2 separate regions of the Homo sapiens genome follow, and region 2 is linked to region 1. Evidence: fine-mapped expression QTL. Tissue or cell type: whole blood. Region 1 holds a variant in brackets; the other region holds the start of a gene. All regions are shown on one strand. Distances are between the middles of the regions.

Region 1 (8,099 bases):
TTTCTTTTTCTTTTTTTTTTCTTTTTTTTTTTTTTTTTGAGAAGGAGTCTTGCTCTGTCACCCAGGCTGAAGTGCAGTGGCATGATCTCGGCTCACTGCAACCTCCACCTCTTGGGTTCAAGCAATTCTGCTGCCTCAACTTCCCGAGTAGCTGGGACTACATGTGCATACCACCATGCCCGGCTGCGCCTCTCCTCCTAGATGGACACTGAATTCCAGTGTTTGTCCCTCCAGCTCCATGAGTCTGAGAAGGCCCCACTTAGCTTCTCAGCCTCTTAGCTACCACATCCCTCTCAGCCTCCACCCCTTGAACCCCTTGACTTCCGGGCAGCAAAAGCATCGGGGCCAGTTGCTCCAAATTGGGTCTCACCTCCACACTTCCTTCTCTTTGGGGTGCTGGTCCTCGCTGACTTGGTGGTTCTCTGACACCTTTAAAGAAACTTCTTAAAACCTGGGTTGTTATCTGCAGGAGGGTTGGTCAGTTACAGAGTAGTCAGCCATGGCCATAAGCAGAACTCCGTTTCATCCACTTCTGGTGCCCCCCACCCCACATGACCCCCCACACATCTGGGGCACTAGAGAGATAGTGCCCATCAGAGAATTGTCTTTTGACAGTGGTCACTCTCACAATTTGCCGGCAAACATTCTGGGCATATAGGGCTGACTCATTCGGGACTTAGCTGCCATAGGCTTGGATTCTTGTTGGAAACAGCTGCTATAATTTATTCTGATGAATTACTGTTCCAAAGATGGTATTTCTGAGCTTTCCAAGAACACACTGGACATCAGTTCTAGTTACAGTGAAAGTGGGAGGCAGTGGAGAAGGGAAGCACTGGAAGCTCAGCGCTTGTCTGATCAGGTATATGATTTGTAGAGACCAAAAAAAGGTGACTTCTCCCATCCAAGTACTAACCAGGCCCGACCCTCCTTAGCTTCCGAGGTCAGACGAGATCAGGTGCGTTCAGGGTGGTATGGCCGTCGACAAAAAAGGTGACTTCTAAATAAACAATCCCTGTGTTCCCCTGGTGGTCTTCTGGAGGCAGCTGAAGGGCACCTGGATTGTGACATGCCCAGGGGCCCTGGGCTGTGTGTCTACCCTCCTCTGGCAGGGCCACTGCCTGGCTCACAGCCCGTGATGAGTGTGTGGCATGCAGTGGGCGCACAGGCATTGATTGAATCTTTTGAAGATAAAACTAAGCTATCTTTGTTCCATTCTCCTGCTCAGATCACCCGGAAGTTCAGGCTGAATTCTGAAGGCAAACTTGAGCAGACGGTCTCCATGGCAACCACGACACAGCCAATGACTCAGCATCTTCACGTCACCTACAAGAAGGTGACCCCGTAAACCTAGAGCTTCTGGAGCCCTCGGGAGGGCCTGGCTACTGTGCCTCAACGGTTCGGCTCCTCAACAGACAGTCCCTGCGGCAGAAGTGGGTGTGGCCGTGAGCCTCTGCAGGCTCAAGAGTGTTGTCCAGATGTTTCTGTACTGGCATAGAAAAACCAAATAAAAGGCCTTTATTTTTATGGCTGAGGATTTTGAATATTATCACTTGCGTAGGCTGTACATTTTTTTTTTATCTGCTGATGTTTGTTTTCCAAAGCGTTCCCTAAGAAATTAAGAAGGGGGCTGGGTGTGGTGGCTCACGCCTGTAATCCCAGTACTATGGGAGACCAAGGCTGGCGGATCACCTAAGGTCAGGAGTTCGAGACCAGCCTGACCAACATGGAGAAACCCCGTCTCTACTTAAAATACAAAAAATTAGCCAGGTGTGGTGGCGCATGCCTATAATCCTGGCTACTTGGGAGGCTAAGGCAGGAGAATCGCTTGAACCCAGGAGTTGGAGGTTGCAGTGAGCCAAGATCGCACCACTGCACTCCAGCCTGGGAGACAAGAGCAAGACTCTGTCTGGAAAAAAAAAAAAAAAAAAATTAAGAAGGGATGAATCTCTTTCCTTTTCTTTCTTCTTACAGTTTTGACAAGATCTAAAATATTTGTAAATCTTCTATAGAGTTGGCCGGGCGCAGTGGCTCACGCCTATAATCCCAGCACTTTGGGAGGCCAAGGCGAGGAAATGGCTTGAAGCCAGGAGTTTGGGACCAGCCTGGGCAACGTGGCAAAACCCCATCCCTACAAAAAAAAATAGAAATATTAGCCGAGTATGGTGGTCCATGCCTGTGGTCCCACCTACTCAGAAGGCTGAGGTGGGAGGATCCCTGGAGCCCGGGTGGTGGAGGTTGCAGTGAACCAAGATCACACCACTGCACTCCAACTTGGGTGACAGAGCAAGACCCTGTCTCCAAAAAAAAAAGATGGCAGTCATTTTCTCATTACTTTTAAAGAGCCGAGTCTATATTTTCCTACAGATGGAGCATTCCCAAGAGGCTAGCTGTGATCTTAACATCATCATGTAAGTTTTAGTTTGTAACTCTAATACAGCTTTCGTTTTTGTGGGGTTTTTTTCACTATGAAAGTTTCCAAACATACACTAAACCCTTGTACCTGTCACCCAGCTTCAGCACCTGCCAGCATTTTGCCCAAAGCACTTCCATCTTTTCCTCCCCCACTTCTGCGGGAATACACGTAAGCAAATTCCAGACATATTGTCACTTGCCCCTAAATCCTTTGGTAGGCATCACAAAACAACACAAAGCCATTTTCTTTCTCTTAACTCGTTGCCATATCAGAAGTCTCACCAGGCACATGGAGACGAGGCTACACGGGTGTTGGGAAGCAGAGTCAGAATAGGTAGCACACAGGCTGCGCAGGGTTAACATCCAGGGTAGCAACCGCAGGTACCACCTCCAGGGCTTGGGGACAAAAAGTATTACCAGGGTGGGGTTTCAGGGACCTCAGAGCTTACAGGATGTGCTTGGTTCTCGCAAGAGGGGCAGGAGGGCCTAGGACTGTACTCCAGGAGCCAAGGGGGCACCAAGGGACCTGGTGGCTGGGCTCAGAGCTGTCTCTGCTCCCAAAGTGATGCTGAAATAACCTGGGAACACCAGGGAGGTCCCAGCCCCAACTCCTGCATCCAGGGCTCCAGCACACCCAGCTGGAAGGGTGTGTGGAAGGGCAGCACTCAGGGCAGAGCACAGACAAGCCAAGAGACAAGAAGTCAATAACTGACGGCACAGTGCTGTTTTCACAAAATGCATAAGAATTCTGTAATGTTCTCTAACAGTCCTATTCGTATTTCCCTTACTGCCTAAGAAATATCCTCACACGATTGGATTATCAAAGCTTTATTCACGTTTGTGTTTGGCTACAAAGTCTTTTAGGATCCTTTTGATCCTAAAAGTCCCCCTCTTCCCTCCCCTGTGCCCTTGACTTGTTGGTGAAGCTGGTCACTTGTCCTCGAAGGTGTCCCCAGTCTGGACTTAGCATCCTCCTTGTAGTGTTTAACTTGTTCCTCTGTCCCCTCTATATCCTGTCGTCTGGAAGTTGGATCTAAAGTTGTGGCTGGAATCACACCCGGACGGTGCTCAGTTCCTCGTGTCACAGCCTCATGTCCAATTGTGTCACTTTGTTGAAGCATTAATAAGCTTGGATGGCGACAGCCTGACCCCTTTATCGTCAGTTTCCCCTCAACTGTTCCCCTGACAGTTTTGCCACCTGTGGGTGACCATTGCTAGAACCAGAACCTTCACTGGGACTGCAGAATTCTCGTCTTCTGTCTCATCAGAAGGACATTTAGTGGCTGGAATTCTCTCAGACCTTCCCTTTATCCATTAGGGTAAGTCAGGTTACCCTGAAGTGCGTTCATACTAGAAAGGCAGCATAAGCACTTAATTATTTCCCTTTAATGATCAATTTTTGGAGTAAGAATGTCCTGGCACCCTCCAGTGGTGCCAAAGGACTGGGAGTTCCTCACACCACTGCACTTACCCTTCCCGCTTCCCTACTCATGTTACGAGCTTAATGCTTTCATGTATACAGTCTGTCCTCAGTATCCACAGGGGTGCGTTACAGGACCCACACGGGTACCAAAATCAGATGCTCGAGTCTCTTGTATAAAATGGCATGGGATTTGCATGCAACTTATGCACATTCTCACATATACCTTAAGTCATCTCTAGATTGCTTATAATACCTGATACAGTGTAAATGCTCTGTACGCAGTTGTTATACTGTATATTTTTGGGGTTTTTTATTGTGGGCTTTTGGGGAATATTTTTATTTTTATTTATTTATTTATTTATTTATTTTTTGAGATGGAGTCTCGCTCTGTTGCCCAGGCTGAAGTGCAGTGGTGCGATCTCGGCTCACTGCAAGCTCTGCCTCCCGGGTTCATGCCATTCTACTGCCTCAGCCTCCCGAGTAGCTGGGACTACAGGCGCC[C/T]GCCACCACACCTGGCTAATTTTTTGTATTTTTAGTAGAGACGGGATTTCACCATGTTAGCCAGGCTGGTCTCGATCTCCTGACCTCGTGATCCACCCACCTCAGCCTCCCAAAGTGCTAGGATTACAGGTGTGAGCCACCATGCCCGGCCAGGAATATTTTTTATACACAGTTGAATCCACAGAAATGGAGGGCCAACTGTATTTGATATCATTTTAATCAAGTGCTGCGTATATCTTTGGCAAACAGGAGATGCTCAGATTATCTCGTAATTGGACAGAGGAGCCCCTCCATCCAGTGGGCTTTGATGCCTCCTTGCTCTGGGGCCACAGCTGCCTCTGACTTTTCCTGCCCAGAACCTGGAACTACCCATTTCTCCAGAGCCCTGGTTCTCGTTAGTGGGGAGTGGGAATTGGAGGGAGTGGGAATTGGAGGCCACAGACTGAGCACTGACTGCTTATGATGGCTGGGCTGCTCTACCTCCCAGCCTTTCCATGGACAAAACCAGAAAATTGTTCTAAAATTTATTTTCTCAGCTAGGCGCGGTGGCTCATGCCTGTAATCCCAGCACTTTGGGAGGCCGAGGTGGATGGATCACCTGAGGTAAGGAGTTCGAACCTGGCCAACATGACAAAACCCCATCTCTACTAAAAATACAAAAAATTAGTCAGGCATGGTGGCGGGCACCTGTAATCCCAGCTACTCGGGGGGCTGAGGCAGGAGAATTGCTTAAACCTGCGAGGCAGAGGTTGCAGTGAGCCGAGATCACACCATTGCACTCCAGCCTGGGCGACAGAGCAAGACACTCTCTCTCAAAAAAAAAAAAAAAAAAAAATTTCTGGTTTATTTTCTCTGAATCGTGAGGTTGTATTAGAGATCAGGACCCTTCACCCTTAACTACTTTAGCATGGGATATACACATGTATTTTTGAAAAATATGAATTCATACTGTTTTCCATTCAAATGTTAAGATTATAAGGGTTTTTAAATATTCTTTGATTTTACCTCTTAAGCTGAAAATCTTGGTTCATTACAACATTAACATTATTTGCTTTATTCTACATATAAATGCATATAATCATTTCAAAATAAGCCTGGGCAACATAGTAAGACCCCACCTCTACCAAAAAAGGTATTGTTAACAATGACTACTGGTCAAAGTTTTTTTCTGCTAGCTTTTTTAGACCTTTCCCTTTGAAGATACAAAGTTAAAATATGATGTAATTGGATTAACTACTCTGCGCTTCTGTCACCAACTTGATACACAAGTCCATTTGTTTAAATTCTAGAAATTGTTATAATTTGTTTTGCGAATACAAATCATTTGACTGGCTTTCTTGTCAGAACTGTAAAACCAGGCACATTTGCTCCACACAGGCCTCTAGCACAGCTACCGAGTGCTCCGGTAAGCTCGCCGTGGGTTAGCTCGCCGTGGATTAGCTCACCGTGGGTTAGCTCGCCGTGGATTAGCTCGCCGTGGGTTAGCTCGCCGTGGGTTAGCTCGCCGTGGGTAAGCTCGCCGTGGGTTAGCTCGCCGTGGGTTAGCTCGCCGTGGGTTAGCTCGCCGTGGGTAAGCTCGCCGTGGGTTAGCTCGCCGTGGGTTAGCTCGCCGTGGGTTAGCTCGCCGTGGGTAAGCTGGCCGTGGGTTAGCTCGCCGTGGGTTAGCTGGCCGTGGGTTAGCTGGCCGTGGGTAAGCTGGCCGTGGGTTAGCTGGCCGTGGGTTAGCTGGCCGTGGGTTAGCTCGCCGTGGGTTAGCTGGCCGTGGGTTAGCTCGCCGTGGGTTAGCTCGCCGTGGGTTAGCTGGCGGTGGGTTAGCTCGCCGTGGGTTAGCTCGCCGTGGGTTAGCTCGCCGTGGATTAGCTCACCGTGAGTTAGCCAGCAGATCCCCTCATGCTGGGCCTTGGGTTGTTTCCAGTCTTTGGCCAATCAAATGTCAGAGTTGGACCCAGCACCTCCGTTGGGACTGCAGAGTGCTTGTCTTCTAAGTCTGGTTAGAAGGGCATTTCCACATCCTTGTGGATTCTGGCCATCGTATCTTAAGGATACATTTCTGGAAGTGGGATTGCCAGTCGGCGGGGAGAGGCTCATCTGGCTTGTCTGGGTGTTGTCCCTGTCCCCAAGGGGCCAGGCGTTCTGCATCCCCACAGCATTGTAGGAAGTCCCTGCCCCCCTCAGCAGCCGAATCTGGTGTCAAATTTGGATTTGGGTCAATCTTGTAGGTGAGAAATGGAGTCTTGGGGTGGTTTTGGTTTGCATTTCTCTCTCTCTTTTTTTTTTTTAATCATTTTCTTGATTTTCCAAACTCATGAGCTCGTTTGAATAAGGAATATTAATCCTAATATTTCTCATTTTAAGTTATAATTTTTATTGAGGTAAAATATACATAAAACAACATTTTTATCAGAGTCCTATAGATGGTTAAAAAAATTCACCATTTTAACCATCTCTTAAAGTCTACAATTTAGCAGCATTTAATACATTCATAACGTACAACCATCACTTCTGTGTGCTTCCAAAGCCTTCATCACGCCAGAAGGAGACCCCGCGCCCGTTCAACACCATCCCCCCACCCTCAGTCCCCGACAGTCACTGCCCTGCTTCCCACTCAAGTCACCGACACTTTGAAAATGTGCTATGTTATAAAACTTTTTTCCCAGTATACATTTTGTCTTTTATCACTCCTGGGTTTTAAGTCATATTTAAGAAGATTTTGCCCACTCCCCGGTGATGAAGGAATTCACTTTTTCCTAGTACTTTTGACCCATTTGGAATTTGTCTTAGTGTATGGTATGAAGTGCAGATTCATTTTCGTCTTTCTCCAAGTGGTTAACGTTTAACCACTTGTATTAACAAGTCCATCCTTTCCTCACCGGTATCATATGCTACCTTATAGACTGAATGTTCTAGGCACTGGGGTCTGTCCCCGGGTTTTCATGTCCCTGGGCCTGCTTGCCTACATGGGTCCTGGTGTCATGTGGTTCCATTACGGAGGCCAGGAGATGGTTCGGGGGCAGAGGACCTCTCCATTTCTTTTGCAGAGTTTTCCTGGCTATTTTTACACTCCTGTGCACTTCCTCTCTCACATGAACTTTATAATTAGTTTTCTAGATCTGGGGAAAAGCATGCGGCGTTTTTATAAGGATTACATTACATTTATAAATTTACTTTTGTAGAATTGTCTTGCTTAGGAGAGTTTTCTTATCCAGGAACATGGTCTTTCTTTCTGTCTTAATTCATTTTCTGTTGCTATGACTGAATACCACAGAGTGGGTAAGTTATAAAGAAAAGAATTTTATTTCTTACAGTTCTGGAGGCAGGGAGTCCAAGGTATAGGAGTTGCATCTGGTGAGGACCTTCTTGCTGGTCAAGACTCTGCAGTCTCAAGTGGTGCCGGGCATTATGTGAGGGTCTCATGAGAGACGGCAAAGCTGGCTTTTATAACCAGCCCCCTGGTGATAACTGCTCCACTCCCTGAGAACCCATTAGTCCATGAATGGATTAGTCCTCATGAGCCAATCACCTCCCCAGAATCCCATCCCAGCACTGCTGCATTGGAGTCCAGGTTTCCAACACATGAACTTTTGGGGAATTCATTCAAACCATGGTGGTGTTAAAATCGACTTTGGTGTCTTTATGGTCTATTTAAAGTTTTTCCCATTTAGGGTTTCACATTTCTTTTACGCATGGGGATTTTTATCTTTTTGTTGCTGTTAAAAATGGGTCATCTCTTCCACTCTGTCTTTGAACTGAAAGTATGCACAAA
Region 2 (8,099 bases), 270 kb after region 1:
AATTATGAGGGGGGGAAAAAGAAGGGTAAACAAATCCAAAAGCTGGTTTTCTTTTTGTTTTTTGAGATGGAGTTTTGCTCTTGTTGCCCAGGCTGGAGTGCACTGGCGCGATCTCAGCTCACTACAACCTCTGCCTCCTGGATTCATGCAATTCTCCTGCCTCAGCCTCCGGAATAGCTGAGATTATAGGTGCCCGCCACCACGCCCAGCTAATTTTAGTATTTTTAGTAGAGATGGGGTCTCACCATGCTGGCCAGGTGAAACTTCCTGACCTCAGGTGATCCTCCCACCCTGGTTTCCCAAAGTGCTGGGATTACCGGCCTGAGCCACCGTGCTTGGCCGCAAAAGCTGGTTTTCTAAAACAAATTCCTCACAAGCCCAATTCAGGAAAAAATAGCAAATATAGAAAAGTAGCTAAAATAATGACAGAGAAGACTACATGTAGCAAAATGGCCCCAAATCTGAAAATGCAGAAAAAATGGGCACTGTAAATTACCAATACAGAACCAAAAACTGGAAAATCTGACTAAAACAAGTATCACTAAGCAGCTGATTAAAGACATACCAATGAAAAGGACCAAGACTTGACGTTAGAGTTGAACTCCATCTAACCTTGGACAAGACCAAAGTCATTTAACTATTCCAAGCCTCTACAGAGAAAAGGGAAAACAATTTGTTTTATGAAGACAGCACAGTTTTAATAACAAACCCAGATGGAGACATAAGAAAGGAACAAAGGAATGAATGAACGCCATAGGCCAATCTCACTCACAAATATAAATGCAAAAATCCTGAATACAATATTTGCTAGCAATTAGATTCCAGGAATGTATCAAAAGCATCTACCAATATTAATCCAACAACACAGTATAGGGGAAAAAAAATCATGCATTAATAGATGCTGATGAGGCATATGAAATTCAGCAACCAATCATAATGAAAACAGTAAGAAAACTGCTGGCAGAGTGTGGTGGCTCACGCCTGTAATACCAGCACTTTGGGAAGCTGAGGCAGGAGGAGCGCTTGAGCTCAGGAGTTCAAGACCAGTCTGGACAACATGGTGAAACACTGTCTCTACAAAAAATACAAAAAAATTAGCTGGGTGTGGTGGCGGGCACCCGTAATCCCAGCTAAGTGGGAGACTGAGGTGGGAGGATCCCTTGAGCCCAGGAGGTGAAGGCTGTAGTGAGCCGAGATGGTGCTGCTGCACTCCAGCCTGGGTGACAGAGTGAGACTGTCTCAAAAAAAGAAAAAAAGGAAAACTGCTTAAATCTAATTCAGGATATTTCTGAAAACCAAAGGCAAATACTGTTTTCTAAACAATAGAAAATTAAATCTATTTAAATTACAACCGATAATTCGGCAGGAATGCCCTTCCATAATTATTTTTAAGCACTTACATGAAAACTTTTACATGAAGACCTATACAAAAAGCAAACAAAACCCCCATGTGCTATCCATTATCCAGCTTCAACAATTAGCAACTGAAGGTCAATAATGTTTCATCTATTTCCACAATCATCAATGCCACTGCCTGGATGATTATGAAGCAAATACGAGATGTAACATTTCATTTATATTCCACTACACATATCTAAAAATAAGGGCTCCTAAAAATGACAAACCATTACACATAGCTAGTTCTTTAATGCAATCAAATATCCAATCAGTATTCATATTCTCTATTCTCTCATTTTTTTCATGTGAATCAAGATCCAAGTAAGATCCAGATATTGCAATTTCACCATGATTATTTAATACTACCTTGGTGAGTTTACTGAATATAATGAAACAAGAAAATCAAAAGAAAACACTTTTTTGCTGATTGGACTGAATACACAGAAAATACAAATACTCGGCTGGGTGCGGTAGCTCATGCCTGTAATCCCAGCATTTTGGGAGGCCAAGACGGGCATATCACGAGGTCAAAAGATTGAGACCATCCTGGCCAACATGGTGAAACCCCGTCTCTACCAAAAATACAAAAATTAGCCAGGTGTGGTGGCGCCTGCCTGTAATCCCAGCTACCCAGGAGGCTGAGGCAGAATCACTTGAACCCGGGAGGTGGAGGGTGCAGTGAGCTGAGATCGCACCACTGCACTCCAGCCTGGCAACAGAGCAAGACTTTGTCTCAAAAAAAAAAAAAAAAAGAAAATACAAATACTCTGGTTAAAAAAATTCTAGAATACGATAATTTAGTAAGGTAGCTAAATATAAGATCTCAAGTAAGTCAAGTACCAGCAACAAATATCAAGGAATAGAAATGGGGGCACATCATTTACAACAGAATTTTTAAAAATCCAAACAAGTAGGGACCAAACTAGAAAACAGGTCCTACATAAATCAAATCATTTTTATTTTCCCCAAATGAGTATGTTATTTAGTCCATTTCTAACTGGAATCCCTAACGGTGTGGCTTTTTTCTTAAAGGATTGGATAAAATGAGCTTTAAGTTCACATGGAAAGATTAAATGCCAATGCTGAGGATAGAAAAGAGCAGGCACTTACCTTATCACCTATTACATGTATCTGATTTCAAACCCACACAGTGCAACATAGAAATACCATAGAGCACCTCTCCCGCACCTCCACAGAACCCCTCAGCCTCACTGAACCCTGTGCACACATATGGGAAAATGGAGAAACTATTTGTCTTAAACTGACATTTCAACTTTGCTTTGACTTTACCAAGTTTCTCCTGCCATCTTTTTTTTTTCCTGTTTTTTTTTTTCTGAAACATAACTTGGATCCACAATGTTTTCTCTCATAATTTATTAACTAATGTGAAATGGAAGGTGAAAGAGGAATTATGAACCTCTGAAGCACATGGTTTTCAGTGAGAAAGCCTTGATCCAGCAACACAAACTGCCAAGCACTGTGATTAACTTAAACACTGGGTGCAAATTGGACCAAAAATGTAGTCAAATGAAAATTTTGTTCCTTCAGATCGTGTTTATTCCACATGCCAGAAGTTGTTTAAAGTTCTTTAATCTTGACCCACAGCTTATTTCTTCCACAGAATAACCCCAATACACATAAAAAACCAATTTTCGCAAAACAAAAGATAGAAGATGAACAACATCTGGCGATGTAGAACCCGGAAGGTCCATGATCTTATTCAAAGCATCTGGATTCTTTGGATTCGGGGAAGGTCCACGTTCAGTATACCCACATAACACTCCTAACAGGGACTGGGGCAGGGATAAGTGGCATGTATGACTACTAACAGAACAGACAATACAAATGGCCTTACCTCACCTCTGCTGCCAAATGAGTTTTGGTGTCCCCATTCCTCCAGACAAAAAAAAAAAAAAAAATACCCACAACTTCTTCTTTTACAGCAGTTTCTGTATGCTGGTATTGGGGATAAAAAGGGGCCCTGAATTACATTTATGAATGATAGAGGGAAACCCTGGCCCCTTTCCCTAGGTCACCTTGCTAGTTTAAGAGCCAGTCAGAATGTAAATCTGATCTAATTAAAACGCTCTTGTTCTTTATTCCTGGCTGTGGCACTGGTGAGAGAAATCAAGGTGGAAGTTGAGGAAAAAAAATCAGGACAACCTTTATAGCTAATGAGATCAATGCCAAGATTATACATAACAGTACACATCATGAGTTAGGATGCTGGGTGGTGCAAAGAACCCATTAATGGGAGCTATCAAAAATCACTGAAAACAATGAGGCTCAAATCAGAAGTATCAAGAATCAGCTTTCATGACCCCTACACCATGATGTTTTTCTTTATGACGGCAGAACTATTTTGAAACATTAAATATATCGGCAGGCACTGTGATTCAAAAAGTATTTGAGAACCTACTAGGTGCTAGACACCAACCGAGGCAATGAGTATGGGTGACAACATGTGCCCTGCCCTCACAGCACCAATAGTCCACTGGACAAATACCATCTGGAACATCAGGTAAACACCTAAGCCTGTCTGGAGGAAATCTAATTTGGGCGGAATCCCACAAGCACAGACTAGGTAAGGAGAAGGCAGTTAAGGTGGGAAGTAGCCAGATTTAAGAGTTTGGGCAATGGCCAAAGGTGCAGAAGTTTGAACTACAAGAAGTTCAGTGTAGTTGGTTCGTGTGTTTCCGTGGAGAGAGGACAAGGTCTGGTGGCACTGACAAGAATTAGACCGAAAAGGTAAAAAAGCAAGCCAGGTTTGTCTGGGCCAGTAGGCCAGGTCACAGTTGGGACTCCACTGAGACCACGGAAGCCACAGGTTTGCTCCTCATCCCCGGGCCAACTCGGCGGCCTCCAACCCTATACCCTACCCCCTGCTGCCTGTCCGTGCCTCGCTGGTGCAGACCTTCGTCGCCTCTCCTCGCCGAAGGTACCCGCAGACAGGGCCTAGTCGCTCTCCCCTCGCTTATCCACGGCATCCAGCCGATGGGCTTGGAGGTTTGGGGGCTGGCCAGTCCTCCACGCCTCAGGGAGGAAATGGCACCGTTAGAAAGACAAGATGGCCACACAAGCTCTAAGTGTTTGTCGGGCCTAAACCTGTATCCTCCCTCCAAGCACCAAACCTCCCGACCTCGACCGCACTCGACGCCCCGAGGCCCAGCACCGACGACAGTGCAGAGGAATTCCCGCAGGGTCAACAAGGGGTCACCGGAATCCCCACTCCCGCGCCCGGGCCTGCCCGTGTCGGAGCCACTGTCGCCGGCACTAGGACCGCCCGGGACGGGGGAGCCCACGATAAGTGCCGAAGAGCCTGGGCTCGGCCGCCCCTCCCCCACACCGCCCCGCCGGCACCCCAGAGCCAGCCGACCACCGCCCGAGAGTATGGGACGAGCGGCGCGTCCCCCGCAGCTCCTCGGGAGGGCCGGCCCACAACTTGTGCGGGGTACACCGGCGAGACACTCACCCGCCAAACAGCCCGAGAACAGGCGCCGACCGACCGCGCCGCGGACCCGCCCAGCGCTCGCGGTCCGCTCACAGCCCGCCCCAGCCCGCCCCGCCCCGCCCAGCGCGCAGGCGGATTGCGTCACCGCGTCACCCCGCCCCTTTGCCAACTGCTTCCTGGCTCAGTGCGACCTGGCCTTCTTCCCCTCCCCCATGCGGCCGGCTTCCGAGTGCGCAAGCCCAGAGTCGTCCGCGTTGTCCGCCTCTGCGCAAGCGCCGTGCTCCTCCCACGGCAGTTGGCCATATAGAGGCTGGGGGTGGGGGGGGAGGTCAAGCGTAGCCTCTTCTCCTTTACCAAGATGGCGGCTTGTCCCTGTTTCGCCACAGTTCCTACCTTATGAGCTCGGTTTTCTTATGCTTATAAGAGTGGAACAGGTAATGAGAATCTTCGCCTTGCGGTGGGTAACTGGAGTGGGGGGAAGGCCGTTTGTTAGAAGGAGACAAGTGCCCACTGAGGAGGAGAGAGGCGGTCGCGGGAGGGCAGGTGGTGGCGGGAGTGCGGAGCGATCACGGGGAGGGGGAGCCTTCGCCTCTCCTCCTGTCCTCCAAGAAGATGGCGGCAGCACCGAGCTGGGGCGCCGAGTACGACTGGGCGGGGGACGGCGAGCGGCCGCGCGAAACTCGTCTAGCCCACCACCGCCGCCGTCTCGATGATCGGGGGGCCTCTCTGGGATTGGCTGCGCGCACGTCACGTGGGGCCGACGGGCCCTGCGCAGACCATCGAGTCGGGCGTCCCTCCCCGGGGACGTGGCCTTCCTGTGCCCGGGCTGGGGCCCGCCGCCCCGCGGGGGAGGGCGGAGCTGGCGCGGCCCCTAGCTTTCTCCTTCTGGTGTGGGGCCCGAGGTGAGACCTGGGGAGTGCTCCGCGAGCCCACGAGCAGCGACGTGGCTCGGGGACGGGAGGGTGCCGTGCCTGGCTGCGGCCTGAGCGGGATGGGCGCGGGCGGCTCCGGCCCGCGGGTTGTGCCCCGGCCCGGGGTGTCCTTTCCTCCCTCCCGCGTGGCCTGGAGGCACTGCAACTGTTCGAGACTCACGTCAAGGCTTGGCGCAAATACCCCTCGTTCAGGAAGCCTTCCTAGGTTTCCCCCGCTTAGAGGAAACACTTCCTGAGTTCCTAATGGCTGACCCGCATGGTGTTGGGAACCTGAGCCTTTCTGACACCGTGGCATGTTGCTAGGGTATTTTTGTGCGTAGCTCCTTTGAAAAGTGGTTAGGTGCTCAAGGCTAGCTGCTACATATCCTCTCCATTCGACTTAAAAAATGAGAGGGTCAGACTTGACATGGTGTTTGGACGCCATGTAAAATCGAAGGAAGTCGACTTGGGCTTTGCTTATTAAACAGTGCCTATTATGGTGAAATTAAACGGCTGAAGGAATGTGGATGAGTCGTAATCTTAAGGAACATGACGATTTGCCCCTCAGTTTTGCGTTTTATGTCCTCAGATTCATAGCTACCTATACCCTAAGCCCTCAATCAATGACTTCACATTTATTTGGTGTCTGCTTAAGGATAGTCACTTTCTTAGCAGCTAACTTCCTTAAAACCCTATTAAGATAGGTTAAGTCACAATTAGGGTTTTGTCTAAGGCTCCTGGTAGCGGCACATTGCATAATAAGCTTAATGTTCATTTAGGGAAGCAAATCTGGGATGCTGAAACACTGGATGAAACGTAGTGCTTAGGTTTATATTTTGATTTTTTGACATGTAAAAGTATCCCTAGGCTAAATTCATTAAGTACACATGATATTAGGATGCTTGGCAACAGTATTTAAAAATAGTTGAAAAGGTGTTTGGGTAAGAATTATTTCCATCATTTGGATTACCGAATCTCTGAGTCTGAAACATCAACCTATCAAGTTTTAGACTTGGGGAAAATGGAGCTGGAGCCTACTGCCTCAAGTCTCAGGGACAGCGTTTGAAACCCCATTAAATAATTCATCATGAGGATTAAACTTTCCTGTTACTGCTATTAGTTTTGCTTGGTGCCAAGCACTGTTGAAGGGACTTAGCTCATCTTATCAGGAGTCAAATTAACGTCATTCGGGTAAAAGTGCATTGAGTGTAAGGAGAGCACCTCAAAGATATAGTTGACCTATATCACGTCCCTCAGCGCCACTAGGCTTACTTGAATCCCTGTTACAGTGTCCTCTCCAGTGGGCAAAGCTAACTTCTCAGTGGCCTGGTGGGAGAATTTCTTCTTGAGTAAATACGTATTTTTCCAGGTTTTGTTGTTTTGGCCTTCCAGTTGTCTGACTTCAGCCTCATGACCTCACTTCTTCATTTCAATTCAAAAAAATATTTGCTGGAAATTGCTGTGTAGGGTTAAGGGTTCTGCAGATACAAAGGTTGAGAGGATATAGTCTTTTCGACCAGGTGCAGTGGCTCACGCTTGTAATCCCAGCACTTTGGGAGGTCGAGGCGGGTGGACACTTGAGGTCAGGAGTTCGAGACCAGCCTGACCAACATGGTGAAACCCTGTCTCTACTAAAAATACAAAAATTAGCCTGGCATGGTGGCGCGCGCCTGTAATCCCAGCTGCTCAAGAGGCTGAGGCATGAGAATCGCTTGAACCCAGGAGGCGGAGGTTGCAGTGAGCCGAGATTGTAGCACTGCACTCTAGCCTGGGCGACAGAGTGAGACTGTGTCTCAAAAAGCCAACAAAAAAAGAGGATATAGACTTTTCTTTTCCTCAGGCAGCTTGTGGTCTAGTGTGAGAGACTTATTTGTAGAAGAGTAATTACATTATGGTGTGATAAGTGCAATGATAGAAATATGTGTAAGGTGTGGACATAGGAAATAGGCAGTGGTTACCTGTTGGAAAGTCTTCCTACAGAATGTGGTCCTTGAACTGCGGTTTAAAAGACGAGTAAGAGTTTTTCCAGGTGGTGCTGAGTGGACAGGAAGACTAGGAAAGAGGAGGCTGACATTTATAGTTGGTGGCATACGTGAGCAACAGGTTTAGAATTTGGTATACTCTTGCCATGGCAAATGGTAGAGGGCTTGGCTCAGACTGTGTACTGAAGGACTTGATGCCCTTCAGTGAGTTTTATCTAAGATACTCTGACCTGAACAGAATTTGAGATGATTGTGCCGGGTCCACTGGGATATCTTACGATCCTTCGTGGGTCATATGGATTCTCCATTAGTGCGTCCCAGCTGAAACTTACAGAAAGGGCTTAAGCAGAGAACATG

What was found. PIP is the estimated chance that this variant, and not a neighbour inherited with it, causes the effect.
Region 2: SEPTIN2 starts here. The variant in region 1 is fine-mapped to the expression of SEPTIN2 in whole blood (INTERVAL, PIP 0.92).

The regions. Positions count from the first base shown.
Region 1 is chr2:241,577,852-241,585,950 of GRCh38, reverse strand. THAP4 (THAP domain containing 4) reads left to right here. Exons shown (of 6, transcript NM_015963.6): 6 at 1,226-1,546. The coding sequence ends at 1,345. It also overlaps the pseudogene RNA5SP122. Among named protein-coding and RNA genes, the nearest start is that of BOK-AS1, 23 kb to the right of the region's middle. RefSeq lists enhancers at 1,124-1,652, 5,480-5,979, 5,980-6,481. The variant C/T (reference allele first, on the strand shown) is at 4,337.
Region 2 is chr2:241,312,754-241,320,852 of GRCh38, reverse strand. SEPTIN2 (septin 2) reads right to left here and starts at 4,928. Exons shown (of 13, transcript NM_004404.5): 1 at 4,871-4,928. It overlaps HDLBP (high density lipoprotein binding protein), which reads left to right and starts at 5,181. Exons shown (of 28, transcript NM_005336.6): 1 at 5,181-5,283. RefSeq lists enhancers at 3,731-4,455, 4,406-4,465, 4,456-5,180, 5,106-5,205, 5,226-5,275 and 1 more and silencers at 4,656-5,005, 5,546-5,925.